4 linked regions of the Homo sapiens genome follow. The protein of the gene in region 1 purifies or fractionates together with the protein of each later gene. This does not show direct contact. Each region holds a gene or a part of one and is shown on either strand. Other genes may lie near its edges.

Region 1 (7,025 bases):
TTGTTTTTTGAGACAGAGTCTTGCTCTTGTCGCCCAGACTAGGGTGCAATGGCATGATCTTGGCTCACTGCAACCTCCGCCTCCTGGGTTCAAGTGATTCTTCTGCCTCAGCCTCCCAAGTAGCTGGGATTACAGGTGTGTGCCACCACACCCGGCTAATTTTTGTATTTTTAATAAAGACGGGGTTTCACCGTGTTGGCCAGGCTTGAACTCCTGACCTCAGGTGATCCATCTGCCTCGGCCTCCCAAAGTGCTGAGATGACAGGCGTGAGCCACCACACCTGGCCTATTTTCTAAGTTTTTTAACAAATTAATTTTGAGACTGCTTCCTCTGTTTCAACAAAAATGCATTAAAAACCTACTGTGTGACAGGCTGTGGCTAGATCAAGATGAATAATACCAAAAAGTAACTCATTGGTTAGAGGGGAGAAGAAACGTGCACCAAGAGTTCCAGTACCAGAGCTTGCTGCTCAGTGAAGCTGCAGGATGCCTGTGTGGCCCCAGGAGGGAGGGACGTGCTGCTGTGGCTGGGAAGGGAAGGGGGGCAAATCTGCCGGCATAGTCCCTACCCAGAGCAACTAGGTGATGGGGTTTTGTCAGATCTCTTCTGTTAGTCACCTGTGACCCCGCAAGCCTTTCCAAGTGGTAGGTCACCAGATTCTGCTGCATGCACTGGGTTTCTACTCAACTGGATTTAGAGTTCAAACATCTTTGGCATAAAAAAGAAATACATAAAGACAACCCTTAAGGGTTCACAATAAAAACTGATTTACTCCCTCCTATCTATAGATTACAAATTGAACACCCTGTAACCATGGCTAAAATTGCCATGATTACTCGGCACACAGTTAAGGCTGGGCGCAGTGGCTCGTGACTGTAATCCCAGTGCTTTGTGGGGCTGAGGCAGAAGGATTATTTGAAGCCAGGAGTTCAAAACAAGCCTGGGAAATATAGTGAGATCCTGTCTCTACAAAAAAATAAAAATAAAAAATTAGCTGGGCATGGTGACACTCACCTGTGGTCCCAGCTATTCGGGAGGCTGAGGCAGGAGGATCATTTGAGCCTGAGAGATCAAGCTTGCAGTGAGCCATGTTCACGACACTGCACTCGAGCCTGAGTGACAGAGTGAGACCCTGTCTCAAAAAAGACCCCCCCCCACACACAATTAAACATAATATTGAATATGACAACTAGCTAGAATATTTCGTGGAATTAAAAAGAAATGCTAACTGGCCGGGCATGGTTGCTCATGCTTATAATCCCAGCACTTTGGGAGGTCAGGAGTTTGAGACCAGCCTGGCCAACATGGCAAAACCCCATGTCTACTAAAAATACAGAAATTAGCCTGGAGTGGTAGTGCATGCCTGTAGTCCCAGCCACTTGGGAGCCTGAGGCAGGAGAGTCACTTGAATCCAGGAGGCAGAGGTTGCAGTGAGCCAAGATCACACATACTGCACTCCAGCCTGGGAGACCAAAAAAAAAAAAAAAAGAAGAAAAGAAATACTAACCTTGGCAAGGTCTAGAACTGTTGTATTAATTTTGAAACATGGGAGTAAATATAGACACACTGATGGTGGCTTTGACTTTCTGCTCCCCCAGGCTCCTCAGTGGTTGGAAAGTGATTCTTGTCAGAAATGTGAGCAGCCATTTTTCTGGAACATAAAGCAGATGTGGGACACCAAGACGCTGGGGCTAAGACAAGTGAGTAGCCACTGTCGAGTCATCTCTGGCTTGATTGTGTATTTCACTATTTGCATACTTAATCTGGGGTTTTTTTGAAACACACTTTGTTTTTGCAAATGCTATTAATTCCTACATTTTCTATGTCTTTATCATTGTGTGACTAACAATGAGGAAGACCTTTCCCAGGGCCAGTGAGACTGTTACCTCACTTTTCCATTGCTTGTCCTGTATTGGAAAGGCAGGGGTGCGTAGAAAATCCTGAGAGCCTATTTTTAAACAGATAAAAGATCTTTCAGTTTAAGACTATTACTTATTAAAGTCAGTGTTTTATGCTAGCCAAGAACAAAATTAGAATAAAGTCATACAGTTATATACCTTATGCTGTCACAAACAGATAAAAAGTAATAATTTAGTCCTCACTTGAATGCCTGACCCTATGAGTTTTAGATTATTTTAAATTGTTCCCTTATAAGCATACCTGGAATATTTTTATTAAGCATGTTTTGAGTACTGTTTTTTAAATTTTTTAATTAAAGAAATATGTTCCAAATAGCCTGTAGATTTTAAAGGTGCTGTTAAAGGATTCTTGTAATACTAAAGTTCTACAAAAAAAAAAAAAAGCAGGTAAGTAAAAAAGAATGCTGATTTTATTCCTTTTATTATTGGTTGCATCTCTATGAGCGATTAGCCTAAAGTTTGTATGTGTTAATAAACTTTTTTGGCCCTGCATGGTGGCTCAGGCCTGTAATCCCTGCACTTTGGGAGGCCGAGGCAGGTGGATCACCCGAGGTCAGGAGTTTGAGACCAGCCTGGCTAACATGGCGAAACCCTGTCTCTCCTAAAAATACAAAAATTAGCTGGGTGTGGTGGCGGACGCCTGTAATCCCAGCTACTCGGGAGGCTGAGGCAGGAGAATCACTTGAACCCAGGAAGCGGAGGTTGCGGTGAGCCAAGATCACGCCACTGCACTCCAGCCTAAGTGACAGAGCGAGACTCCATCTCAAAAAATAAATTAATTAATAAATAAAATCTAAAAAATTTTACTCAGAGATACTCCACAGTAAGGTCTCATATGAGACTGGCAGGCAAGAAGGGAATTATTAGTGCTCAGACCATTATAAAGCTCTGAAATAGCACCTGAGTTCTGTCTGTCATTAGCCAAGTTCTCACAATGCATGGCTGATGGTAATTAGTGCAGTATAATTAATAGGTGAAGTATTCCCTACTTCTAAAGGAAACACAGAGAAATGGATTTTACTTCCATTTATTAACAGTTAACAGAAGAGAGAAGAGGTGCTGGTCACTAAACTTTTGGCGGTAAAAGAATATGTCAAAATCAGTAATAATAATTGGACTATTTTGTAATGTTCTTGAGGCTTATTTCCAGAATCACAGTTTGAGAGATTTTAGAAAATAGCAAAATACATGATTATGGGCATTAGTTTCTTAATGAGAGCATAGTGCATTTAAAACTTATTTTAGACCGGGTATGATGGCTTATGCCTGTAATCCCAGCATTTTGGGAGGCCAATGTGGAAGGGTGGCTTAAGCCCAGGAGTTTGAAACCAGCCTGAGCAACATGATGAGACCCCGTCTCTATAAAAATAAATAAATAAAACTTATTTTAAAACCCTTTAGGCTGGGCATGGTGGCTCACACCTGTAATCCTAGCACTTTGGGAGGCCGAGGCAGGAGGATCACTTGAGCCTAGGTGTTCAAGACCAGCCTGGACAACATAGCAAGACCCTGTCTCTGCAAAAAAATCAAAAAATTAGCCAGACATGGTGGCAGACACGTGTAGTGCCAGCTACTTGGAAGGCTGAGGTGGGAGGATCGCTTGAGTCTGGGAGGTCAAGGCCGCAGTGAGCTGTATGCCATTGCACCTTTGCATTCCAGTCTAGGTGACAGAATGAGACCCTGTCTCTGAAAAAAAAAATAATAATAATGCCTTTTTTATGATGGAGGAATAAATTTTTCTTTCCCTAAATCTACAGTGATTAGGCTCCTAAATGAACTAAATTTGTTGTTAATAATATTGTTTGTTAACATGTAGACAGATAATATGAATGAATGAAAAGCAACATTTGACCAGTACAGCAAAGTTTTTTGGAAATCCTTGACTAGTGTCAGAATTGTCTATCTTGTGAGTGTTAATTGATACATTGAATTGGGGTGATTGCAATTCAAGGCATATCCTCCCCGCTCCTGTTGCCCTACTTTAGAGGGAAACCATGTGCTTTAAAGCAAAAGCTAGGCCAGGCGCAGTGGCTCACGCCTGTAATCCCAGCACTTTGGGAGGCTGAGGCAGGTGGATCATGAGGTCAGGAGTTCGAGACCAGCCTGACCAAGATGGTGAAATCCCATCTCTACTAAAAATACAAAAATTAGTCAGGCGTGGTGACAGGCACCTGTAATCCCAGCTACTTGGGAGGCTGAGGCAGGAGAATTGGTAGAACCCGGGCGCCAGAGGTTGCAGTGAGCCGAGATCACGCCACTGCACTCCAGCCTGGGTGACAGAGTGAGACTCTGTCTCAAAACAAAACAAAAAGCGAAAGCTAACACCCTGTTTTCCTCCTCCCGGTCACCTGTGAAGCATCACTGCAGGAAATGCGGGCAGGCTGTCTGCGGGAAGTGCAGCAGCAAGCGCTCAAGTTACCCAGTCATGGGCTTCGAGTTCCAAGTCCGGGTTTGTGATTCTTGTTACGACTCCATCAAAGATGAAGAGTGAGTGTTTGCATATTTTTGTCTCATTGCCTCTTATTACATCTGTCTAATGGTTCTCTGAAATGTGAAGAGCTTCAGAAGTGATAGGATATGTTTAGCCATGTGTTTGTTTCTCCTGAATTTCCTAAGCCATTTTATTTGTTGTTTGTTTTTTGAGACAGAGTCTTGCTCTGTCACCCATGCTGGAGTGCAGTGGCGTGATCTCGGCCCACTGCAACCTCTGCCTCCCGGGTTCAAGCGATTCTCCTGCCTCAGCCACCCGAGTAGCTGGGATTACAGGCGCCCCCCACCACCTGGCTAATTTTTGTAGTTTTAGTAGAGATGGAGTTTCACCATGTTGGCCAGGCTGGTCTCGAACTCCTGACCTCAAGTGATCTACCCACCTTGGCCTCTCAAAGTGCCAGGATTACAGGCGCGAGCCACCGTGCCTGGCCCCTAAGCCATTTTTGAAGAGAGGACCTGCCCTAGCTTTATGACTTAAGACCATGACTATGCATCTTAAGTTGCCCCTCTGACTGGGCAGCTTTCTCCTGAACACAGTGAGGAATGCTAAGTTACATGGTCCAGTAACTGAGTGGATACCCTGAGCCTCTGCATCCCACTGGCTGCTATGCAGGGATAAGTCCATGCACCTGTGGATGGCAGTGGTTGAGCTGGTTCTCTATAAAAGTATCCAGTGCCCAGACCTTTGTTCACACATGCATGTAAATTTACTGGGAAAACTCTAGAGACCAATGTTCTTTCTTCCACAGAAATCTGGCCTAGCAGTCTATTCTTAAATTGCTCTTTGTGTGTAAGACACATCTGTTTGATACCCCACTCTGCCCTGACTTTTAGGCAAATCCGTTAGGACAGAACCACTATTTTCTTTCCTTCCCTTTGAATCATCTTTTAAAGCAGCAGAGGCAAATGTTGGCAGAGGTCCACATTGGAAAGCTAGTGCATCACGACTGGTGTTGGTAAATGAACTAGTGATGGGATTGGGGCAGCTGGGCTTTGAAGCGGGTGCTGTAAGAGGCACTGCTCCTGTGCATGGCAGAGGTTTCAGGGAAAACGGCAGCTCTCTGATGTTTTGCCCATGCTGTATGATTTTATTCAATGCAGTTCTTCTTTTATATTGAAGATTCTTGTTTTTATATCTAGGAATGTATCAGCCTTTCCAGTAAAAAAAAAAAATCAGTTATTTTGGGAATTTTATAAAACAATCTTGTGATTTAACATGCTTTCTGTCATCATTAAATTATAAGGTTAGTTTTCAAAACCATAGCCACAATTTTAGGAGCAAATTTTAACACTATTATCATAAGCATTTACTTTTTTTTTTTTTTTTTTTTTGAGACTGAGTCTTGGTTGATCACCTGGGCTGGAGTGCAGTGGTACAATCTCGGCTCACTGCAGCCCCCACCTCCCAGGTTCAAGCGATTCTCCTGCCTCAGCCTCCCGAGTAGCTGGGATTACAGGCGTGTGCCACCACACAGAGCTAATTTTTATATTTTTAGTAGAGACGGGGTTTCACCATGTTGACCAGGCTGGTCTTGAACCCCTGACCTCAAGTGATCCACCCGTCTCGGCCTCCCAAAGTGCTGGGGGTACAGACATGAGCCACTGCACCTGGCCATATTTGCTTATTTTATGTTGCTAAAAAAGCTTACCCCACTAGCTCTAGGTACAGTCAAGTAAATTTTCAGTGATCTCTTTTCTCTTGTTAGTCGGACTTCTCTAGCGACCTTTCATGAAGGAAAACATAACATTTCCCACATGTCCATGGACATTGCCAGGGGACTGATGGTGACCTGTGGGACCGACCGCATTGTAAAGGTAAGCTGGCTAATTGTCTGTCAGCATCTCAGTTGAGATTGCCTATTACCATGCTGTGAATGTGCAGGAGACAGTCACTCTTTCTGACTGGCAAGCTTTATAAGCAAATGATTGCCAGTTTAAAACCTTGAGTAACAAATTGCTTGCCTCTGAGTTTCCATGCATTCATTGGTGGTCAGTCCCAGTGGCACCTCCCTCTGCAGTGTCTGTCTGGCAGAGTGAGTCTGGCACCCTGTATATCCCTATGGGTGGAGTTGACCTCTGGGTTCTCCCTTGCTGGCCTGGGTCCTCACCCCTGACCCATCTCAAGACATTCCTACGCTTGCCAATGTTCCTTTTCATCCTGGGCAGAATGCGTCCTCAGTATAAGGAATAACCACACATTTTAACAATTAAATCCCTGGGTCACTAACACATAAATTGAAATGAAGTGTTTTATACTTAGTACCACTCTTTTTTTTTTTTGAGATGGGTCTTGCTCTGTTGTCCAGGCTGGAGTGCAGTGGCACAGTCACTACTCACTGCGGCCTTCACCTTCCAGGCTCAAGCAATCTTCCCACCTCAGCCTTCCAAAGTAGCTAGAACTACAAGTGCCTGCCACCAGGCTTGGCTAATTTTGGGGGGATTTTTCATAGAGATTGGGTCCTACTATGTTGCCCAGGCTGGTCTCAAACTCCTCGGCTCAAGCGATCCTCCCATCTCAGGCTCCCAAAGTACTGGGATTATAGGCATGATCCACCATGCATGGCCTAAGTACCACTCTTCAGTGGTGAAACTGAGATATTCTATATTCCTGATGG
Region 2 (7,025 bases), on another chromosome or scaffold:
CCATTGAAAGTGGACAATTCAGTGTTTTTTAGTATACTCACAGATTTGTGCAACCATCACCATAGTCAATTTTAGGACATTTTCATCACCTCAAAATGAAACCTTGTTATCCTTTTCCTAACACTCTCCTATCTCCTCACCCCACCCCACCCTTCAGCCCTAAGAAACCACTAATCTACTTTCTGTCTCTGTTGATTTCCCTATTGTGGACCTGGCATATTCATGGATTCAAATAATATGTGGCCTTTTGTTACTGGCTTCTTTCAGTCAATTAGCATAATATTTTCAAGATTCACCTGTGTTGTAGCATGGAGAGTACTTTATTTTTTTTATAGCCTAATAATTCATTATGTGGGTATACCACATTTTATTTATTCGTTTGTCAGTTGATAAACACTTGTTTGCACATTTTTGGCTATTATGAATAATGCTACCATAAACATTCATGTACAAGTTTTTGTATGGACATTTGTTTTTTCCTGGGACATATTATTTCCCTGGGAAATAATAGGAGGGAAATTGCCAGATCATTTGATAACTCTACATTTAATCATTTCAGGAAGTATCAGACTACATTCAGATGAGATCGGGTGCGTTCAGGGTGGTATGGCCATAGAAAGGTCAGGCTGTATTCAAAAGTGGCTCATACCAATCTATATTCTACAGGCGGTGTACGAGGGTTCCAATTTCTCCACATTCTTACCAACATTTGTTATTATCTGACTTCTTTATCCTAGCCATTGTAGTGGGTATGAAGTGGTATCTCATTAACTTAACTTGCATTTTCTTAATTGGTAATGATGTTGGTCATCTTTTCATGTGCTTACTGGCCATTTGTATATCTTCATGAAAGAAATGTCTGTTTATACTCTGCTCATTTTTAAATTGGATTATTAGTCTTTTTATTATTGTGAGAATTCTTCATCAATTCTGGACACAAGTCTCTTATGTATTATTTGCGAATATCTTCTCCCATTCTGTGCATTGTCTTTTCACTTTCTTGATGATGTCCTTTGACCCAAAAAACTTTTATGACGTCCAGTGTGTCTATTTTTTTGTTTGTTCGTTCCTTGGTATCTATCTCCTCTGCCAAATTCAAGGTCAGGAAGATTTACCCCTGTGTTTTCTTCTAAGAGATTTATAGTTTTAGCTCTTACATTTAGATTATTGATTGATTTTGAGTTAATTTTTGTATGTGGTGTGAGGTAAGGGTCCAGCTTCATTCTTTAGCATGTGGACATGCAATAGTCCCCACACTATTTTTTAAAGAGAATATTCTTGCCTCCAGTTAATGGAGTTAGCATCCAATTAAAAAATCATTTAGACTGTACATGTATGGATTTATTTCTAGACTCTCAACTGTCTTCCATTGATCTATACATCTATCCTTGTGCCACCACACTGTCTTGATTACTGTTGTTTTGTAGTAAGTTTTGAAATCAGGAAGCGTGAGTCCTCTTTGTATTTTTCAATATGGTTTTGTCTATTCTGGACCTCTTGCAATTCTATATTAATTTTGGAATCAGTTTTTCTACAAAGAAACCAGCTGGGATTCTGATGGGAATTGCATTGAATCTGTAGATCAGTTTGGGACATATTATTATCTTCACTAGGTTAAGTCTTCTAATACATGAATATGGGATATTTTTCCAATTATTTAGATCTCATTTAATTTCTTTCAACAATGTTTTATAGTTTTCAGAGTATAAGTTTTCCACTTCTCTTGTTAAATTTATTACTATTTTATTCTTTTTGATGTTTTGTAAATGAAATTGTTAATTTCATTTTTGGATTGTTGATTGCCAGTGTATAGAAATACAATTGATTTTAATATATTTATCTTGTATCCTGCACCCTTGCTAAACTCATTTTAGTTCTAATAGTTTTTTAGTGGATTCCTTAGGATGTTCTTATAGATCATGTCTTTTGCAAATAGAGATAGTGTTACTTATTTTCCAATCTGGATGCCTTTTATTTCTTTTTCTTGTCTAATATCTCTGGCTAAAACCTGTAGTATAATACAGTGTTGAATTTAGAAGTAATGAAAATGGATGGACAGCCTTGCTTTGTTCCTGATCTAGGGGGAAAGCATTCAGTCTTTCTCCATGATATATGATGTTACCTGTATGATGTATATAGCGTGACATTATTAGATGTTGATTTGTTGGCCAGCCGAGGTGGCTTACGCCTATAATCCCAGCACTCTGGGAGGCCAAGGCAGGTGGATCACCTGAGGTCAGGAGTTTGAGACCAGCCTGGCCAACATGGTGAAACCTCGTCTCTACTAAAAATACAAAAGTTAGCTAGGTGTGGCGGCGGGCGCCTGTAATCCCAGCTACTTGGGTAGGAGAATGGCTTGAACCCAGAAGACAGAGGTTGCAGTGAACCGAGATGGAGCCATTGAGCCTGGGAGACAACAGCGAAACAATCTAAAAAAAACAAAGATGTCGATTTGTCATAGATGCTCTTTATCAAGTTGAGGAAGTTCCCTTCTGTTTCCTAGTTTGTTGAGCATTTTTATATGAAAGGGTAATGAATTCTATCAAGTGCTTCTTCTATTTCTATTGAGATTATCATGTAATTTTTTTATTCTGTTGATATGATGTATTTTATTAATTGATTTTTAGATATTAATCTAACCTTCTGAGATAAATCTCACTTGGTTATGGCATATAATTATTTTTATATGTTGCTGAGGGGTTTTTTTCAGCCATATTCCTAAGATATACTGGTCTGTAGGTTTTCTTTGCTTTGTTTTTGTTTTTTTAATGTCTGTCTCATTTTGGTATCAGGGTAATGGTGACATCACAAAATGAGTGAGAAATGTTCCCTCTTTTCTATGTGGAATGGTTTTTGAATAATTGGTATTAATTCTTCATTGAATGTGTGGTAGAATTTATTGGTGAAGCCATCTGGACCTTGGTTTTTCTTGTGAATATTTTTTGGTTACTAATTCAATATCTTTACTTGATATAGGCTTATTCAGATTATCTCTTTCTTCTTGATTCGGTTTTCTTCTTGAGTAGTTTATGTCTTTCTATAAATGTGCCTAATTTGTTGGTATATAATTGTTCATAGTATTCCTTTATAATCTTTTTTTTATTTCTGTAAGGTCAGTAGTAATGGCTTCTCTTTATTTCTGATTCTAGTAATTTGAGTCTTTTTTTTTTAAGTTTCTTTCTTTTTTTAAATTTTTAGTGGAGAAAGAACTTTATTTTTTTGTTTGGTTTTTGGGTTTTTTTAGAGACAGGATCTCACTCTGTCACCAGGCTAGAGTGCAGTGATGCAATCACGGCTCACTGCAGCCTCAACCTCCCTGGGCTCAGGTGATCCTCCCACCTCAGCCTCCCAAGTAGCTGGGACTACAGGCGTGCGCCACCACATCCGGCTAATTTTTCTACTTTTTGTAGAGACAGAGTTTTGCCATGTTGCCCAGGCTGGTCTGGAGCTCCTGGGCTCAAGGAATCTACCAGCTTTGGCCTCAAAATGCTGGGATTATAGGCTTGAGCCACTGCACCTGGCCAAGAACTTTTCTTTTTTATAATTTCATCTTTTATTTTAGATGTGGGGGTACATATGCAGATTTGTTACATGGGTGCATTGCATGATACTGAGGTTTAGGGTATGACAGGTCCCGTCAGCCAGGCAGTAAGGATAGTACTCAATAGGTGGTTTTTCAGCCCTTGTTTAATGGCTGAAAAATCCAACATCCGATTACTCTCAGACATTTTTTCTCCTTGTGTCCAAATGTATAGGTTATACTTTTCTGTTTATTGGCATGCCTTGTAATTTTTCATTGGAAAGTAAATTTTTAGATCATATATTGTAGCATTTCTGGGTACAGCTCCCCCTCCTTTTGGGGGCTTTTTATTTGCTTGTTTGCTTAATGAGTGGCTCAATTATTTTAGGGAAACATATCCCACTACCTCCCCAGACCCCAACAGTATTGTGCCTCTGATGTTGCTGTTCAGGGAGGTACAGTTTTAGGTGTGCCCACAATTACCCTGGGATGACACTTGCTTTGGTAGGGCTGCCTTCCTCTCTTTCCGTGAACATAGTGACTGTAAACTCCAGTAGATGCTGGCTCCTTGCTTGATTATTTGCAACAGTGCCTTAGGGCATAAATTGCTCTATAAACTAATCCAATCAAATTCTGGCTCCTTTGTAGGGATTGCATACGAGAGCAGTGCTGGATATTTATTCTGACTACAGAAGGGCTCGTCCCAGCTGTCATATTCCCTAGTTTTCTCCTGCAAACTAACTAGCCTACTGTTCAGCCTGTATCTTAAATCTCCTCCCATTTCTCTCTCACTATAACCACCACTGTTCTTTAATGGTTCCCCAACCTTTTTGGCACCAGGGACCAGTTTTGTGGAAGGCAGTTTTTCCACAGACCGGATCACCCAGCTTGTGATGGGTTTATGTGGATGGTTTCAGGATTAAAGTGTTCCACCTCAGATCATGAGGCATTAGATTCTCATAAGGAGCATGCAGCCTAGATCCCTCACATGTGCATTTCACAATAGGGTTCACACTGCTGTGAGAATCTAATGCCGCAGCTGATCTGCCAGGAGGGGGAGCTCAGGGGGTAATGCTTATGCTTCCTGGCTCACCACTTACCTCCTGCTCTGCAGCCGGGTTCCTAACAGGCCTTGGATGGGTATTGGTCTGTAGCCCGGAGGTTGGGGACCCCTGCTTTAGAGCACCCTTAGGCTTCAGCTTCTCCAAGCTCTGTTGCAGGTGAAGTCAGTTCCTTTGAAAAGAAATGAGGAGCTCCCTGTTTTATGGCCTACTTGTCTTTTCCGCCCTCCTTTCCCCCTCCCCCGACAATATCCCTGAGCCAGGACTAGAGCTGAAATTGGGGACAATGGCAGTTTTCTCTCTGAGTGACATCCTCTGCCCTAGGAGCTGAGTTTTCAGTGGACTTGTGGGGAAGAGATGAGGAATAGCCTCAGGCCCTCTTGAGTAACCTCCTGGTGTAGAACCATCCCCCTCATGAGCCAGAGAAAGAGTCATCGGGGCCCAGCATTTTCAACACACTGTGCCCAAGGTGAGCCCCTGTTCCATGAATGGGGCTGACTGGAGGAAGGGATCCCCCACCTCACAATTGCATTTGTCCAGGATATAACTGCAGCCACAGGGAGCTGGGGACAAAATGAGAAACTCTGATGTCCTGGTCCTCCTGGGAGGGAAGCTTCTGACTCGGAGTTGGGGGAAAAGAGGGCCCTGTGCTTTTGGCTGTAGCCGTCTGGCGTGGACTTTGCCTTGCTAAGCTGGGAGTGGGAAGAGGGGAAGGAGTTTTGGCTTAAACACTGCAGACTCTCTTTTTCACCAAATTTTTGCAGATTTTCTTGAATAGATGTTTCTTCATTTGCTATTTTTCCCTTAGGTCAATTTTCAGAGGCTTTAACTGGTTAATATTTTATAACTTTTAGTTTCACTAGGGAGCAGGTCAGCAGAACTTTCATGCTGTCATGCCAGAAGTCCATCTCAGCAATTACTTTTGAGTTGAACTTTTATCAGAAAAATAGCTTTGTAGCTGAGGAGGGGCAAGGAGATTTAAAAGACTGTATCTCCTTTGTCACAGCTGTTTCATGTCATTTTGTAATTCAGTCTTAAAGCCTGTGTCTAGTAGTGATTTTTGCTGTTGAGTGTGATAATACATAAACAACTTTGGAATTTGCCCGCAACATTGGTAACACATTTCACTGACATACTCTTTAATAATTGTTTATTACCTATTATTTCTTTTTACCTAGGAAGTATCAAAACTCCGCTGTCAGCTTGCTAAAAAAAAACAAAGTGAGACAAAACTTCAAGAGGAATTGAATAAAGTTCTAGGTATCAAACACTTTGATCCTTCAAAGGCTTTTCATCATGAAAGTAAAGAAAATTTTGCCCTGAAGACCCCATTAAAAGAAGGTAAGACATGAATAAATGTATAAAAGTGTCCTCTTCCTTTGGATTTGCTTTTATAGCATTTAGCAAGTCATCCATTTTATGAACTGTGAAAATTTGTTGACACCTTCTGATAAAAGCAGTTCTTACTGAGATTGTTGTGTACAATGACTGTTTTCTTCCTCCTTCTACGCTTTCTTTTCTGTATACCTGGATTCTGCCTGTTCTTCAAGGCAAATCTCAAATCTTCCTTGAAGCTTTGCATGACTATTTTGTCCCTGTCCACACACCCCAAATTACTCCCTCTATAATACCCTTAGCATTTTAACCTAAATGTCTCTTAGGTCCTTAATCATTTTCTGATTTGTAGTTTTAGAGAAGTAAATTTCTTATTTCTTGACTGTGAATGTTTGTCTTTCACGATAAATTAAAGTTGGTTGAAATGATAAATCTAAAAATTATCTTACAGAATATATTGCTTCATCTGCCTTAAAGAAGATACAAGGCCTGTTTTTAGTTTATAATGATGGATAAATTCGTTTTAATCTAGATTACTAATCCTTCTTTTCAATAATTCTTCTAGGCAATACAAACTGTTACCGAGCTCCTATGGAGTGTCAAGAATCATGGAAGTAAACATCTGAGAAACCTGTTGAAGATTATTTCATTCGTCTTGTTGTTATTGATGTTGCTGTTATTATATTTGACATGGGTATTTTATAATGTTGTATTTAATTTTAACTGCCAATCCTTAAATATGTGAAAGGAACATTTTTTACCAAAGTGTCTTTTGACATTTTATTTTTTCTTGCAAATACCTCCTCCCTAATGCTCACCTTTATCACCTCATTCTGAACCCTTTCGCTGGCTTTCCAGCTTAGAATGCATCTCATCAACTTAAAAGTCAGTATCATATTATTATCCTCCTGTTCTGAAACCTTAGTTTCAAGAGTCTAAACCCCAGATTCTTCAGCTTGATCCTGGAGGTCTTTTCTAGTCTGAGCTTCTTTAGCTAGGCTAAAACACCTTGGCTTGTTATTGCCTCTACTTTGATTCTGATAATGCTCACTTGGTCCTACCTATTATCCTTCTACTTGTCCAGTTCAAATAAGAAATAAGGACAAGCC
Region 3 (7,025 bases), on another chromosome or scaffold:
ATATCCAAGTGGAGGTGGCCAGGAGGCATCTGGGAACACATAGGGGACTGAGGCTCAGTGGTGTTAGTTCATTACTACCTGACTGCAAACCTCCGCCGACTCATGAAACTCCCCTCGTGTCATGTCATTTTGCCTTTTGTAGCAGGGCCGTGGATTTGTGATGATGGACACTGTGGCCCTGTGGCTAGAAAATAGGGGCTTAGACCAGGCACGGTGGCTCACGCCTGTAATCCCAGCACTTTGGGAGGCCGAGGCGGGCAGATCACAAAGTCAAGAGATCGAGACCATCCTGGCCAACATGGTGAAATCCCATCTCTACTAAAAATACAAAAATAAATTAGCCGGGCCTGGTGGCGTGCACCTGTAATTGCAGCTACCCGGGAGGCTGAGGCAGGAGTGTCGCTTGAATCTGGGAGGCAGAGGTTGCAGTGAGCTGAGATTGCGTCACTGCACTCTAGCCTGGCGACAGAGCGAGACTCCATCTCAAAAAAAAAAAAAGAAAAGAAGGGCTTAGAGGACTGAGCTCTGTGACTGGATAGGTAAGGGGAGATCACCACAGAGAGCACCCTAGACTCGGAGCAGGAGACCTGCCTGCTAGCCAGCCTCTGCCCTGACTGCCTGTGCAACTGTGCTGCTCTCCCCAGACAAATGACCGGGAGCCATGACGTCATCGGGGGCGCAGGAAAGCAGGTGCTCTGCTGCTTTTGCAAGCAGAGAAATAAGAGTTTGGGCACCTACCCAGGGGTCCCAGGGAATGCCCTGTGGCTCCTGACCTCCCCCGCCTGTAATGCTCTGAGCACTTCAGCAGTAATGCATGGAAGAGATAAGGGTCTGTGACCCATGGAACTGTCCAAGTCCTCTCTGACACCCGCTTCTTTTCCTGCCGTGAAGGTAAGCCACTTTATAGATCCTAGGCCTGAAACCCAATGTTGGGAGGGAGTGTTTGTTTTCAAGAAGAAAGAGAGACTGAAACTAGAACATGCACATTTCTATCCAGAAGAAAACAGTTGGAGTAGACTAGAGTCCTACAAAGAGGGCAACAGGGAAGAAGATTCTGGACTGAGTAAAGGGGACCCACTCCTGGGTCCACCTCCTGCCTGGGCCCTCTGGAGAGAGAATTGGCCAGATTCAGCCCTGAGTCACAGCACCCTCCCCAGTTGCTGCCTCACAGCCATCTCCACACCAGCAGCCATGCCCCCAGCGGCAGCTCGCCCACACCTCTGTGGGACCTCCCCACCGTCTCGCAGCCCATCTGCTCCAGGCTTCTACTGACGATTTCGTATTTCACATGGACTCATTTCTCCTCAGACACTCCAGATGGGGAATGCCTTTCTGCAATATCAAAGTGCCCCATTAGACTGGGGAGGAATCATGAGGGGACATACCCCTGCCCCTGCCACAGAGTCGAGCATGGCAGCTGAATATCTCTCACACTGGCATGGCCCCCATCCTCTGGAGAAAGGAGGCCTCAGTGCAGTCAGCCTCTTCAGGAGGCAGAAATGTTGAGAAGTTCTCGCCACCCCTGCTGGGTGACTTTGGGGAGGTGTCTCCTCAGACCTCTGTTTCTCCATCTGGACGGTAAGCATGCTTGAAAGGTTGGGTTTTTGTTTGTTTTTTGAGACCGGATCTCCCTCTGTCTGCCAGGCTGGAGTTCTGTGGCGTAATCACGGCTCACTGCAGCCTCAACCTCCCAGACTCAAGCGATCCTCCCACCTCAGCCTCCCAAGTAGTTGGGACTACAGGTGCTCGCCACCACACCCTGCTTTGTTGTTGTTGTTGTTGTTGTTGTTGTTGTTGTTGTAGAGACAGGATTTCGTCATGTTGGCCAGGCTGGCCTTGAACTCCTGAGCTCAAACGATCTGCCCACCTCGGCCTCCCAAAGTGCTGGAATTACAGGCATGAGCCACTGTGTCTGCCAGCCAGATAGTTTTTGATGTGCCAAGGTTCATTCCAGACCATCTCCCACATCTTCTACCTGTCTTGTCACTGTGCCTTTACTCTCTCATCTCCTCTACCAGCACAGGCTCTTCTGGGGGTAATACTGGGGCCAGTTCCTCTTGGCATCCCTACCTGCCATGTCAGGGAAGGATTGCTGAATCTGGTCCACAGGTTGGCTCTGGGGAAAGTATAGTGTTGGAAGCTGGAGCTGAGATCTCCTGTTTTCTAGAACATGTGGTGAAGGAGACTTGCCAGCCATAGATGCTGACAGCTGAGAGATTAGGGGGGCTTTGTTAAGGAGTGGATAGGGTGCCTTCAGGAGAGTGCTCTGACAGAGTCCTGCATTTGCACTGACCTTGCAGCCAGTTTCAGAGAAGCTTGGGGTGTTATGACAGCAAAGGACAGGCCACCAGGAGCCAAGAGCATCTTCATGGCAAGGCAAGTCAGCATGGGAGCAGTGAAAGTCTAGAAAGGATTGTCATTCACATGCACACGTATGTTTATTGCGGCACTATTCACAGTAGCAAAGACTTGGAACCAACCCAAATGTCCAACAATGATAGACTGGATTAAGAAAATGTGGCACATATACACCATGGAATACTATGCAGCCATAAAAAATGATGAGTTCATGTCCTTTGTAGGGACATGGATGAAATTGGAAATAATCATTCTCAGTAAAGACTACTGCAAGGACAAAAAACCAAACACCGCATGTTCTCACTCATAGGTGGGAATTGAACAATGAGAACACATGGACACAGGAAGGGGAACATCACACTCTGGGGACTGTTGTGGGGTAGGGGGAGGGGAGAGGGATAGCATTAGGAGATATACCTAATGCTAAATGACGAGTTAATGGGTGCAGCACACCAGCATGGCGCATGTATACATATGTAACTAACCTGCACATTGTGCACATGTACCCTAAAACTTTAATAATAATAAAATTTAAAAAAATTTAAAAAAAACAGGATTGTCATTTGCAGTCCGGACAGCTGAGTGACCCACTGTGGGCCTTGAAGATAGATGGAAATGACACTAATCATGGCCATTCATTGTCAAATCTTTGAGAGAGAATAATAATTAAATTCAGCAGTGTCACTGGTACAGAAGGAGGAGCACTGAGCCTGGAGTCATAAATCTCAAACCATTTGTTGAGTACTTAGAACCGATCTTTGGCTAGTAAGCATTTACACATTTTTCTTTCATATAAAAGGACCTGAGTTTGAATCCTGGCAAGGCACTTCACCTTTCTGAGCTTGAGGAATGAATCCTGGCACAGTTTTCCTCATCTGCACAACAGGAATGGATGATTATATTGTCTGTGTCAAAAGATGATACAACCTTTTTTTTTTTTTTTTTTTTGAGACAGAGTTTCACTCTTGTTGTCCAGGCTGGAGTGCAGTTGTTCAGTCCCGGCTCACTGCAACCTCCACCTCCTGAGTTCAAATGATTCTCCTGCCCCAGCCTCCTGAACAGCTGGGATTACAGGCACCCACCACCATGCCCAGCTAATTTTTGTATTTTTAGTAGAGATGGGGTTTCACCATGTTGGCCAGTCTGATCTTGAACTCCTGATCTCAGGTGATCTGCCCGCCTCGGCCTCCCTAAGTGCTGGGATTACAGGTGTGAGCCACCGCACCTGGCTGATACAACTATTATGTAAGCAAATATATGTATAAACACGTAGCATAGCTTTCAGTCCAGGCACGTTTTCCTTTCTTTCTTTAGACCAGTGGTTCTCTATTCTAACTGAACATTTAGAATCACTAAGGGAACTCTTTCAAAATACCAGGGCTGGGGCAGTATTCCAGACCAATTAAAATAGAATGTCGGCAGCAGAGGGGGGCGCGGGGGACCCAGGCTTTAGGGGTCCTTCCCTTTCTTTCCCTGTTTCCTTTTTCCTTTCCTTTTCCCTTTCTCCTTTCCCTCTCCCTAGTGAAGCTAATGTACTTTGCACAGTGTTAGCAATTATCACCCATTCATCAGGTATTAATTCATTTCGATCCCAAGGGCATAGGCTTGATGTACAATAAGGAGTTAAGGACTGTGAGTTCTCTGATAAGGTTTGGTTATAGTCATTTCTCACTTCTCACCCTCTCCAGGACTACTTCCAGCAACCCAGTCTCCTGCCATGTCCGACCCCATCACGCTGAACGTCGGGGGGAAGCTCTATACAACCTCACTGGCGACCCTGACCAGCTTCCCTGACTCCATGCTAGGCGCCATGTTCAGCGGGAAGATGCCCACCAAGAGGGACAGCCAGGGCAACTGCTTCATTGACCGTGACGGCAAAGTGTTCCGCTATATCCTCAACTTCCTGCGGACCTCCCACCTTGACCTGCCTGAGGACTTCCAGGAGATGGGGCTGCTCCGCAGGGAGGCCGACTTCTACCAGGTGCAGCCCCTGATTGAGGCCCTGCAGGAGAAGGAAGTGGAGCTCTCCAAGGCCGAGAAGAATGCCATGCTCAACATCACACTGAACCAGCGTGTGCAGACGGTCCACTTCACTGTGCGCGAGGCACCCCAGATCTACAGCCTCTCCTCTTCCAGCATGGAGGTCTTCAACGCCAACATCTTCAGCACCTCCTGCCTCTTCCTCAAGCTCCTTGGCTCTAAGCTCTTCTACTGCTCCAATGGCAATCTCTCCTCCATCACCAGCCACTTGCAGGACCCCAACCACCTGACTCTGGACTGGGTGGCCAATGTGGAGGGCCTGCCAGAGGAGGAGTACACCAAGCAGAACCTCAAGAGGCTCTGGGTGGTGCCCGCCAACAAGCAGATCAACAGCTTCCAGGTCTTCGTGGAAGAGGTACTGAAAATCGCTCTGAGCGATGGCTTCTGCATCGATTCTTCTCACCCACATGCTCTGGATTTTATGAACAATAAGATTATTCGATTAATACGGTACAGGTAAAAGGACCCCAACAACACTGGAGATGGGGAGTCCCAGGAAGCTCATGTCAGCCAGGTCTTGGAGGGCATCTCGCCAGTGGTGCGAGGCAGGGGACTATACTAATCTGTATTAATTGTGTAGCAGGACTTGATTCCCCCCATGATGAAGTCCACCTTTTGGAATCCAGTGTCCTCTGAACAGAACCACCTTTTTTCTTGCCATTTTGAGCTGCAGACAGGCGGTTTATTATGACAAGTGAAGAGTCAGCTGATGTGTACTAAAGGAGGCCATAGGAGGATTTTCCAGCCAGGACAAAAGAGCAGCAGTTTTCTCCTGGGCTCCATCTCTCTGTACCGCTAGCCAGTGCCGCATTTATCCATCTGTAAGAAGGCCCTGGTGGAGAGGATGGGATGAGAACAAGAGGCTACCTCCAGTTAACCAGGACATAAAGTCCCCAGCGGTTCCTGTCACACCTGCTCCTCCCTCCCCAGGGTGCATCCATGATCGTGGATGTTTGCCCAGGGGTGACCATGTTTGGCTGGCTTGGAATGCTGTGCATTCTCAGAGCTCTGTTAGTGTCCCCTCTTGGGGGTCAGAGATGAGGTGTGGCAGGGTCTAGAGGAATGAGTGTCCAGGCAGAGTTCAGAAGGTAGGAATGTCCCTCTTGATAGGGCTGAATCAAGGGATTCCTGGCTTTAGAAAGGGTCTGCTATCTTTGCAAAAATGTGCAAGTATCTGTAGCCAGTGTAATGAAATCACTTCCAAATCCAGCCTGTTACCTGACTTTTGTCATTGTTTTCCCAAAAATTTGAGGTATCATTGAAACAGGTCATTTTAAACAAATCTATTACGGATTCTCAGGGTTGGAAATAATTCGATGATTGCTTAGTCCTCCCCCACCCCTAGAACACCCCAGCACATCTGAAGATGAGCGCCTCTCCCTGGGTACCTGCAAGTGATCACCTTGGCCTGCTTGCATACCTTGGCTGATAGGAAGCGCGCCATCCCCAAGGCAGCTCCTGCTGTGGTTGGACAGTGCTGACTGTTAGACAGTTCTTCCCTATATTGAGCCAAAATCTGTCCTGCCACTTGCTGGATCTTGGTTGCAGACCTTCCCATTCACCCAGTTATATATCTTTGCTTTCAAAATAGTCACCTTGAGAGACCAGACATTTTTCTGAAAACATCATTACTCAGAATTCAGATTCCCCTCTGGGATCTGTCTTCAGAATCAAAGTTAGCTCTTTTCTATCCCCTGTAAGTCAGTCCCCTTTTGTTGTAGCTTCACCTCGTTTGTGACCCCCACTTCACCCACCTTCCCCACCATCTGTGGCTCCATATACCTTTCGACCATTTTCTGCTGGAAGAGGAAGATTCACGGCCCCTGAGGAGATCCAGAGGAAAGAGACGGTCTCCAAGGGTGCTGTGCAGCAAGGAGCCCAGGAGTGGTATGAACCGTAACAGTGCCCTTAGAGTAAATGTGCGGCCCCTAAGACCCTGCCCTCAGGAAGGCGGCCTTCCCCTGCAGTCCTGTGTCCCACCCCTGGGTCTCTGTAGGGTGCCATCCAGGGCAAGCAACCCAAGCACTGCTTCCCACCGGGTGATGAGCCATGCAGGCCTCCAAACTGCACGTCATGATTCATCCCTAAAGTGAGTTTGGCCTTGAGAGTCCCCAGGGTCCTCCCCCACTGGGCAGGGGTCCTCAAAGCCAAGGAAGCCTGGTGACACAGGCACCCATGGGAGGTGGGCCCAGAAAGGGGCTTCCCATAGATAGGCCCTGTGAGTAGGGAGCTTGTACACTGGGCCATGGGCAGCGCCAGTTCCCTTGAGCAGTAAAGGCCCTTTTCCCCCTACGGTGGGACCCAGGAGTCTCTCTGACAGCTTTTCTGCCAGGCACAGTGGCTCATGCCTGTAATCCCAACACTCTGGGAGGCCGAGGCGGGAAGATCACTTGAGGTCAGGAGTTCAAGACCAGCCTGGCCAACATGGTGAAACGTCGTCTCTGCTAAAAATACAAAAATTAGCTGGGTGTGGTGACAGGCGCCTATAACCCCAGCTATTTGGGAGGCTGAGGCAGTAGAATCGCTTGAACCCAGATAGCAGAGGTTGCAGTGAGCTGAGAGTGTGCCATTGCAGAGAGACTCCATCCCAAAAAAAGACAGCTGTCCCAGGCCAAGGGTACTTGGGA
Region 4 (7,452 bases), on another chromosome or scaffold:
AAGGGGGGCACTCTTTCATCCACCACAGTGAGGTAAAACAAGCCCCATTGTTTTGTTAGAATACCTAGCACAAGCTTTCTGAACGCATTTACTTCTCCCCCCAAACCAAAGCTTTGCATATAGAGAAGCGCATGTGCAAAATGATTTATATTCTCAGAGGAATCAGCAGTGAAAGAACTTTCCGTTTCCCAGTGTGATTGATTTATTATTATTATTATTTTTTTGAGACAGAGTCTCACTCTGTCACCCAGGCTGAAGTGCAGTGGCGTGATCTTGGCTCACTGCAACGTCCGCCACTCAGCCTCCCAAGTAGCTGGGACTACGGGCACACGCCACCATGCCTGGCTAATTTTTTTTTTTTTTTTTTTGTATTTTTAGTAGAGAAGGGGTTTCACTGTGTTAGCCAGGATGGTCTCCATCTCCTGACCTGGTGATCCACCCGCCTTGGCCTCCCAAGGTGCTGGGATTACAGGCATGAGCCACCATGCCAGGCCTCCTAGGGTGATATTTGAAAAAAAGAAATTTATGGATGGGCTGGGCATGGTGGTTCATTCCAGCACTTTGGGAGGCTGAGGCAGGAGGATCACTTGAGCCCAGGAGTTCGGGATCAGCCTAGGCAACATAGTGAGACCCCCATCTGTACAAACCATTTAAAAATCAGCCAGCCGAGTAGTCCCAGCTACTCGGGTGGCTGAGGTAGGAGGATCACTTGAGCCCGGGGGATTGAGGCTGCAGTGAGCTGTGATCACACTGCTGCATTCCAGCCTGGGTGACAGAGGGAGACCCTGTCTCAAAACAAGAAGTTTGTGTGTAAGGTTTTAGGTTAGTTACAGTGAGAAGTACAAAATAAGAAATATTATCTTCATTTTTAACACCTGTAATCTCAGCACTTTGGGAGGCCAAAGCCGGAGGATCTCTTGAGCTCAGGAGTTTGAGACCAACCTGGCAACATAGCAAGACCTCCTCTCTACAAATAAAAAAATTAGCTCGGTGAGGTGGCTCACTCCTGTGGTCCTAGATCCTCAGGAGGCTGAGGTGGGAGAATCACTTGAACCTGGCTGGTCAAGGCTTCAGTGAGCCATGATTGCACCATTGCACTCCAGCCTGGGCAACAGAGCAAGACGCCTTCTCAAAAAATAAAAAATAAAATAAAACGTGTTAATACAGATTCAATTACTCAATTTTGACAATGTCAAGTCGGTTAATAAAAGCACTATGCCCAGCCTAGGCAACACAGTGAGACCCTGTCTCTACAAAAATTTTTAAAAATTAGCTGGGAGTGGTGGCATATACTTGTAGTCCCAGCTACTCATGAGGCTGAGGCAGGAGAATGGTGTGAGACCAGGAGTTCGAGGCTGCAGTAAGCCGTGACTGCACCACTGCACTCCAGCCTGAGCAACAGAGCAAGACCCCGACAAAAATAAATAAATAAGAAAGCACCTTTACCGTTCATAAAAAAGCCCTATGAGTAAGCAAGCATTGTCACTTTTATGGTTGTATCTTTTGATAACATATCAACATAAAGCAAAAATATTTTACAACTTCAGTGCACTAAAACATCTATTTTTCTTTTCCAAGACTTTTCCATAGGATACCTAGTTTTTAGTTATGGGATGATTATGGATAGGCTAACATCTTTTCACATAGTAGCTGCAATTATTCCTGTTTCACCTAAGAGGAAACAAGTTCAGAACTGTCAGATGCCCTCCAACCAATAGGGATTGAGGCAATTTAGGAATTTAACTTTACATAAGTCTCGTCCAACCACACTGATTATTCGTCCCCAAGTAACAGAACCATTTAAGAATGATGGGAAAGCTCGGTCAAATTTTTATTTATTTATTTTTGAGACAGAGTCTCACTCTGTTGCCCAGGCTGGAATGCAGTGGTGCGAACTCGGCTCACTGCAACCTCTGTCTTCCAGGTTCAAGCGATTCTCCTGCCTCAGCCTACCGAGTAGCTGGGATTAGAGGCCTGCACCACCACGCCCAGCTAATTTTTGTATTTTTAATAGAGACTGGTTTTTACCATGTTGGCTAGGCTGATCTTGAACTCCTGACCTCAAGTGATCCACCTGCCTCAGCATCCCAAAGTGCTGGGATTACAGGTGTGAGCCACCATGCCAGGCCTTCAGATTCTTAATGGAACCTGATATCATGGGTGTTAGATCACTCCTTTCCTCTTTTCCTTCTCTTTTCCCATTAATCTCACTTTTTCCTTTCCTGTTTCTTTTTCTGTCTTGATCTTCACCTGCTTCTTTTTACAAGGGCAACATTAATACTGTTCTCTTTGGACTGTGCTAATCCTCCCACTCTTCTGCTCAAGACTGGTGTCACACCTTGTTTTTCATTCTTAAATCTTACATACATCATAAGATCATTTATTAGATGAATATTTTTTAATTAATACACTTAAATTTTATTTCAGTAGCTTTTGGGATATAAGTGGCTTTCTGTGATGTGGGTGAATTATATAGTGGTGAATTCTGAGATTTTAGTGTGCCCATCACCTAGGTAGTGTATATTTTATCTAATATGTAGGTTTCTATCCCTGTCTCCCCTTCCACCCTCCCTCTTCTGAGTCTCTAAATTCCATTATATCACTGTGTTTGCCTTTGTATATTCACAGCTTAGCTCCCACTTACAAGTGAAAACATACGGTTTTTGGTTTTCCACTCCTGAGTTACTTCACTTAGAATAATGGCCTCTAGCTCCATCCAGGTTGCTGCAAAAGACATTATTTTGTTCCTTTTTATTGCTGAGTAGTATTCCATGGTGTATATATACCACATTTTCTGTACCCACTCGGTCGATGGGCACTTAGGTTGGCAATTGTGAATTGTGCTGCTGTAAACATACATGTGCAAGTGTCTTCTTCATATAATGACTTCTTTTCCTTTGGGTAGATACCCAGTAGTGGAATTGCTGGACCAAATGGTAGAACTACTTTTTGTTCTTTAAGGAATCACCATACTTTTTTCCATAGAAGTTGTACATTCCTACCAGCAGTGTTTAAGCATTCCCTTTTCCCCACATCCACGCCTACACTGTTTTTTGACTATTGTTTTTTGAGGTTTTTTTTCTTTTTTAGACAGGGTTTCAATGTGTTGCCCAGGCTGGAGTACTGTGGCACAATCATGGCTCACTGCAGCCTCAGACTCATGGGATCAAGGGATCCTCCTGCCCCAACACACGGCCCCCCGCCCCCCGCCCCCCGCCCCCCTCCCAGTACCTGGGACTACAGGTGCTCACCACTACACCCGGCTAATATTTGTATTTTTGTAGAGACGGGGTTTTGCCATGTTGCCCAGGCTGGTCTTGAACACCTGGGCTCAAATGATCTGCCCAACAGGCCTCCCAAAGTGCTGGGATTACAGGTGTGAGCCACTGCGCCCGGCCTTTTTTTCTGACTTTTTAATGATGGCCATTCTTGCAGGAGTAAGGTGGTATCTCCTTGTGGTATTAACTTGCATTTCTTCGATGATCAGTGATGTTGAGCATTTTTTCATGTATTTGTTGGCCATTTGAATATCTTTTGAGAAATATCTATTCATGTCCTTTGCCCATTTTTTGATGGCATTATTTTCTTTCTTGCTGATTTGAGTTCCTTCTAGATTCTGGACACTAGGCCTTTTTCCGATGCATAGTTTGCAAATATTTTCTCTTAATCTGTGGTTGTCTATTATTTCTTTTGATGTGCAGAAGCTTTTTAGTTTAATTAGGTCCCATTTATGTATTTTTGTTTTTGTTGCATTTGCTTTTGGGGTCTTAGACATGAATTCTTTGCTTGGGCTGATTATTAGACGAACATTTATTGAGCACCAACCATATACGACAAACGATGTACTAGGTGTTGGGAATACAATGGAGAACTTACATGAATCACCAGTCACACAAATCTCTTTTATCTTTTTTTTTTTTTTTTTGCCTTACTTGAGAATTTGGGTTTTTGAGTAAACGCCATTATTCTCTCTTTTTTTAAGCACACTTTTGCATCTCAACCACCTAACACACTGCATCCCTGAGCAACCCGGAGGGGCCGGTTCCTGCACCCAGGCCAACACAACTTAAACCCCAACACACCAGAAGAGGAATAAAGGCCAACCAACTTCCGCCCACCCACTACAAACGTCGAGAGAAATTCGTAGATGAGGCCTTGTCAAAATTCAGAGGCGTCCTACGTCTGCTTTCCCAATGAGACAGTTCCTTTTTGTTTGTCTCAGAGACTGGGGTTTTTTTTTTTTTAAAAGACTGTAGGCAGAAAAAACACCCCAACCGGCTGTTGTGACAATCAAACGTGTCTAAGAAAATTCAGCCAATGAGAGTGCGAGAGTGCATCTTGTGTTGGCCAATGAGAACAGCGACCCGTGCGCAGGGCCGCCCAATGGGGCGCAAGCGACGCGGTATTTGAATCCTGGAACAAGGCTACAGCGTCGAAGATCCCCAGCGCTGCGGGCTCGGAGAGCAGTCCTAACGGCGCCTCGTACGCTAGTGTCCTCCCTTTTCAGTCCGCGTCCCTCCCTGGGCCGGGCTGGCACTCTTGCCTTCCCCGTCCCTCATGGCGCTGCTCCGACGCCCGACGGTGAGTGTGCCCGGGGACCGCTCTCAGAGGCGAGTCCGTCGGCCCCACAGCTCCCCTGTCGCTTCTCTCATCTGCTCCGAGCTTCTCCGTCCCAACCGGGGCTGCTTTTCTCTTCTCCGGAGCTCACTGCTTCGCCCGCGTCCCTGGCCCTGCGGCCGGTCCTCTCCGGCCCGCCTTTCCCCGTCTGGATTCCGCCCTCCCCTAACCCCTCCCTGCCCCGGGGTGGGAGAAGTGTAGGAAAGCGCTTCCGAGATGGCGCCTGTCAAGTGAGCCCCCAGAGCACTAGGCCTAGTACTCAGCGAGCGATCCCCGAGTGCTCTTCATTGCTAGAGAGTTATCTACTTCCACGTTCCTGGGATTTCCCTCCCCCTTTCTTACAACTCCTTGCCAACTAAGGGACCTGTGATGGCGGCTGGGAGGAGGACTGGAAGGGTTCTGTAGGCAGTAAAGTGTACGGCGTGTTTCATCAGGCAACTGCCAGGCTGTTTTTCAGATTGTTCACATTTCTTTTTGTATGAGTTTCCCATTTATTTCGGCACGCTAAGTCTTCCATGCTACGTTCACTAATAAATGGGTTTGTCCCCTTAAAAAATTAATTTCTTTACTCAAATGTAACAGAGGTTTTTGAATATAATTTGGACCAATGTGGCAGACTGAGAGAAAAGGGTCCAAATTCATTTATTTCATCCTTGCAGAGATCAAAGTGTTATGGTGTTTTGGGTATTTTTCCTGTGGGCTTGAATTGTACCGGGACCTACTTTTTTCCTTTGCCGAAAGCTAGAGGGCCCTGACACACCTGAGTTCCATCATCTTGGCTATAAGGTTAGATAAAAGCTGCCAATTTTCCTATCCAGATGAATTTAAATTGAGTCACATTACCAGGCTTCTACCCATAAGCATTACATTTTCAAACACTTTTTCAGATTGGCAGTTGCTGCTGGAAGAAATTGAAGTGTGACTTTTGAGAATCCTAATAGATTGAATACATTTAGCATTTAATTAATATCCTTTTGTGGATCTAAGTCCAACTGACAAGTAATTTTTTATAATAATGTATTCTATAACGTTATTTAATAGTCAAAACCTTTCTGTTCAGGGAAGGCTTGAGTTTCCCTGGCCCCTCTCTCTGCCTGGTAGATCCACTCAAACCCCTTGTTGGGAGTTTTATTAGAGTCGGGACCCTGAACTCTCAGGGATAGGACATGCTGGTTTTTTGCTTTTTTCTTTTTTAATGAAATGTTTATCACTTCTATAATAAACTTTTTTTGGTATGAGTTGCTTTTCCTAGCAAGTTTTATTTCCAAGCACATTATGTCTAAAGCAGGTTAAGGTCAACTGACAATTTTTATTTCATACAATTCCAACCTTCCCTGAGTTTGGGAGCTAAAACTATATTACTCAAGAAAACTACTTCCATTCTAAATGTCCTTAATATAAGAGAAAATCCATTCTATGGCAACCTCATTTTAAAAAGCTGTAGTTCTAAAAGATCATGCATACAGGAGCATTTCTTATTTGTGAAATGGCATAAGAATCAAAGCTAGTTTAGGTTTTAAACATCTGGTTTTTAAACAACCAGACCTATTATTAACTATTAATATTATAGCTTTATTATTTTTCATCTTAATTTACTTTTTACCAAGCTCTGTAAAGGAAGGTTTTTAAATATATGCCTTTAACTTGCAGGGATCTCTAACAAGTGATATGGGTACTATATGAGAAATAATCATTAAATACTAATAAGCTTTGAAGTTCTCTTACAGGCCCACTTGAATACTCAGAATAGCTTTGCAAGGTTAGTGGGAGGATCTTTATTACGGATAAAGTAGATGGGTGATTTGCCTAATTTAGAGTGATGTTATTAATCACAAATAGCATTTTTAGACTTCCTGAAATGTACCTTTTCCATCTTGCAAATAGATCTTGACGTATTGTCCTTTCCCAAAGCAATTCTAAATTTGAGTATCTAACATTAGCAAAGTATTTCAAATTCTTTCAAGGTTTCATTACTTTTTTTTTTTTTTTTCAGGTGTCCAGTGATTTGGAGAATATTGACACAGGAGTTAATTCTAAAGTTAAGAGTCATGTGACTATTAGGCGAACTGTTTTAGAAGAAATTGGAAATAGAGTTACAACCAGAGCAGCACAAGTAGCTAAGGTAACAATGATGAAGACTGAATGTGAATACAGAGGCCGATTCTGTATAGTGCTGAGTCCCACAACGCTGGCTGTCTTGCGCTATTCATGTTTCTTTTTCCTTATAGAAAGCTCAGAACACCAAAGTTCCAGTTCAACCCACCAAAACAACAAATGTCAACAAACAACTGAAACCTACTGCTTCTGTCAAACCAGTACAGATGGAAAAGTTGGCTCCAAAGGTAGGAAGTTCTGAATTTACAAACGTATTTAATGAGGTAGCCTGTTTTTAGCCAGACTACAAGGGTGCCTTTATCATTGCTGTACCTTCTAACGAACATTCATAGCTGGAGCTCTGCTTTGAAGCAATAGTGTAGGAAATGAGTATATACACCTTTTAACTTAATAACATTATGACCTTGAAGCTGGGCATGGTGGCTTATGCCTGTAATCTCAGCACTTTGAGAGGCTGAGGCAGGAGGATCGCCTGAGGCCAGGAATTCAAGGCTGCAATGTGCTATAATGGTGCCACTGCACTCTAGCCTGGACAGCGGAGCAAGACCTTGTCTCTGAAAAAAAAAAATAAATATTACGACCCTGAATAATAAAGTTGATTACCTTAATACCCAAATAAAGGACAGAATGGTTCAGAAAATTCATGGAATGAGTGAGATTTTTAGGGGTAGAGAGAAGATGATAGCTGACAGGAAAGGGCACGTTTGTGGAGAACAAAGT

The links.
Region 2: the proteins of WDFY1 (region 1) and HMMR purify together in Homo sapiens (affinity purification with mass spectrometry; 2 studies listed by BioGRID and IntAct, with this or other methods). This does not show direct contact.
Region 3: the proteins of WDFY1 (region 1) and KCTD21 purify together in Homo sapiens (affinity purification with mass spectrometry; 2 studies listed by BioGRID and IntAct, with this or other methods). This does not show direct contact.
Region 4: the proteins of WDFY1 (region 1) and CCNB2 purify together in Homo sapiens (affinity purification with mass spectrometry; 2 studies listed by BioGRID and IntAct, with this or other methods). This does not show direct contact.

Annotation. Positions count from the first base shown.
Region 1 is NC_000002.12:223,879,324-223,886,348, reverse strand, and holds part of WDFY1 (WD repeat and FYVE domain-containing protein 1), read left to right. Parts: intron 1-1,599; coding exon 1,600-1,701; intron 1,702-4,276; coding exon 4,277-4,407; intron 4,408-6,116; coding exon 6,117-6,225; intron 6,226-7,025. UniProt on the Homo sapiens protein: Positively regulates TLR3- and TLR4-mediated signaling pathways by bridging the interaction between TLR3 or TLR4 and TICAM1.
Region 2 is NC_000005.10:163,484,631-163,491,655, forward strand, and holds part of HMMR (hyaluronan mediated motility receptor), read left to right. Parts: intron 1-4,620; exon of another isoform or gene 4,621-4,753; intron 4,754-5,759; coding exon 5,760-5,922; intron 5,923-6,481; coding exon 6,482-6,534; 3' UTR 6,535-7,025. UniProt on the Homo sapiens protein: Receptor for hyaluronic acid (HA). Involved in cell motility. When hyaluronan binds to HMMR, the phosphorylation of a number of proteins, including PTK2/FAK1 occurs.
Region 3 is NC_000011.10:78,171,605-78,178,629, reverse strand, and holds part of KCTD21 (BTB/POZ domain-containing protein KCTD21), read left to right. Parts: intron 1-644; exon of another isoform or gene 645-1,499; coding exon of another isoform or gene 1,500-1,578; intron 1,579-4,046; coding exon of another isoform or gene 4,047-4,075; coding exon 4,076-4,858; 3' UTR 4,859-7,025. UniProt on the Homo sapiens protein: Probable substrate-specific adapter of a BCR (BTB-CUL3-RBX1) E3 ubiquitin-protein ligase complex mediating the ubiquitination and subsequent proteasomal degradation of target proteins. Promotes the ubiquitination of HDAC1.
Region 4 is NC_000015.10:59,100,712-59,108,163, forward strand, and holds the start of CCNB2 (G2/mitotic-specific cyclin-B2), read left to right. Parts: upstream 1-4,434; 5' UTR 4,435-4,557; coding exon 4,558-4,581; intron 4,582-6,610; coding exon 6,611-6,739; intron 6,740-6,845; coding exon 6,846-6,959; intron 6,960-7,452. UniProt on the Homo sapiens protein: Essential for the control of the cell cycle at the G2/M (mitosis) transition.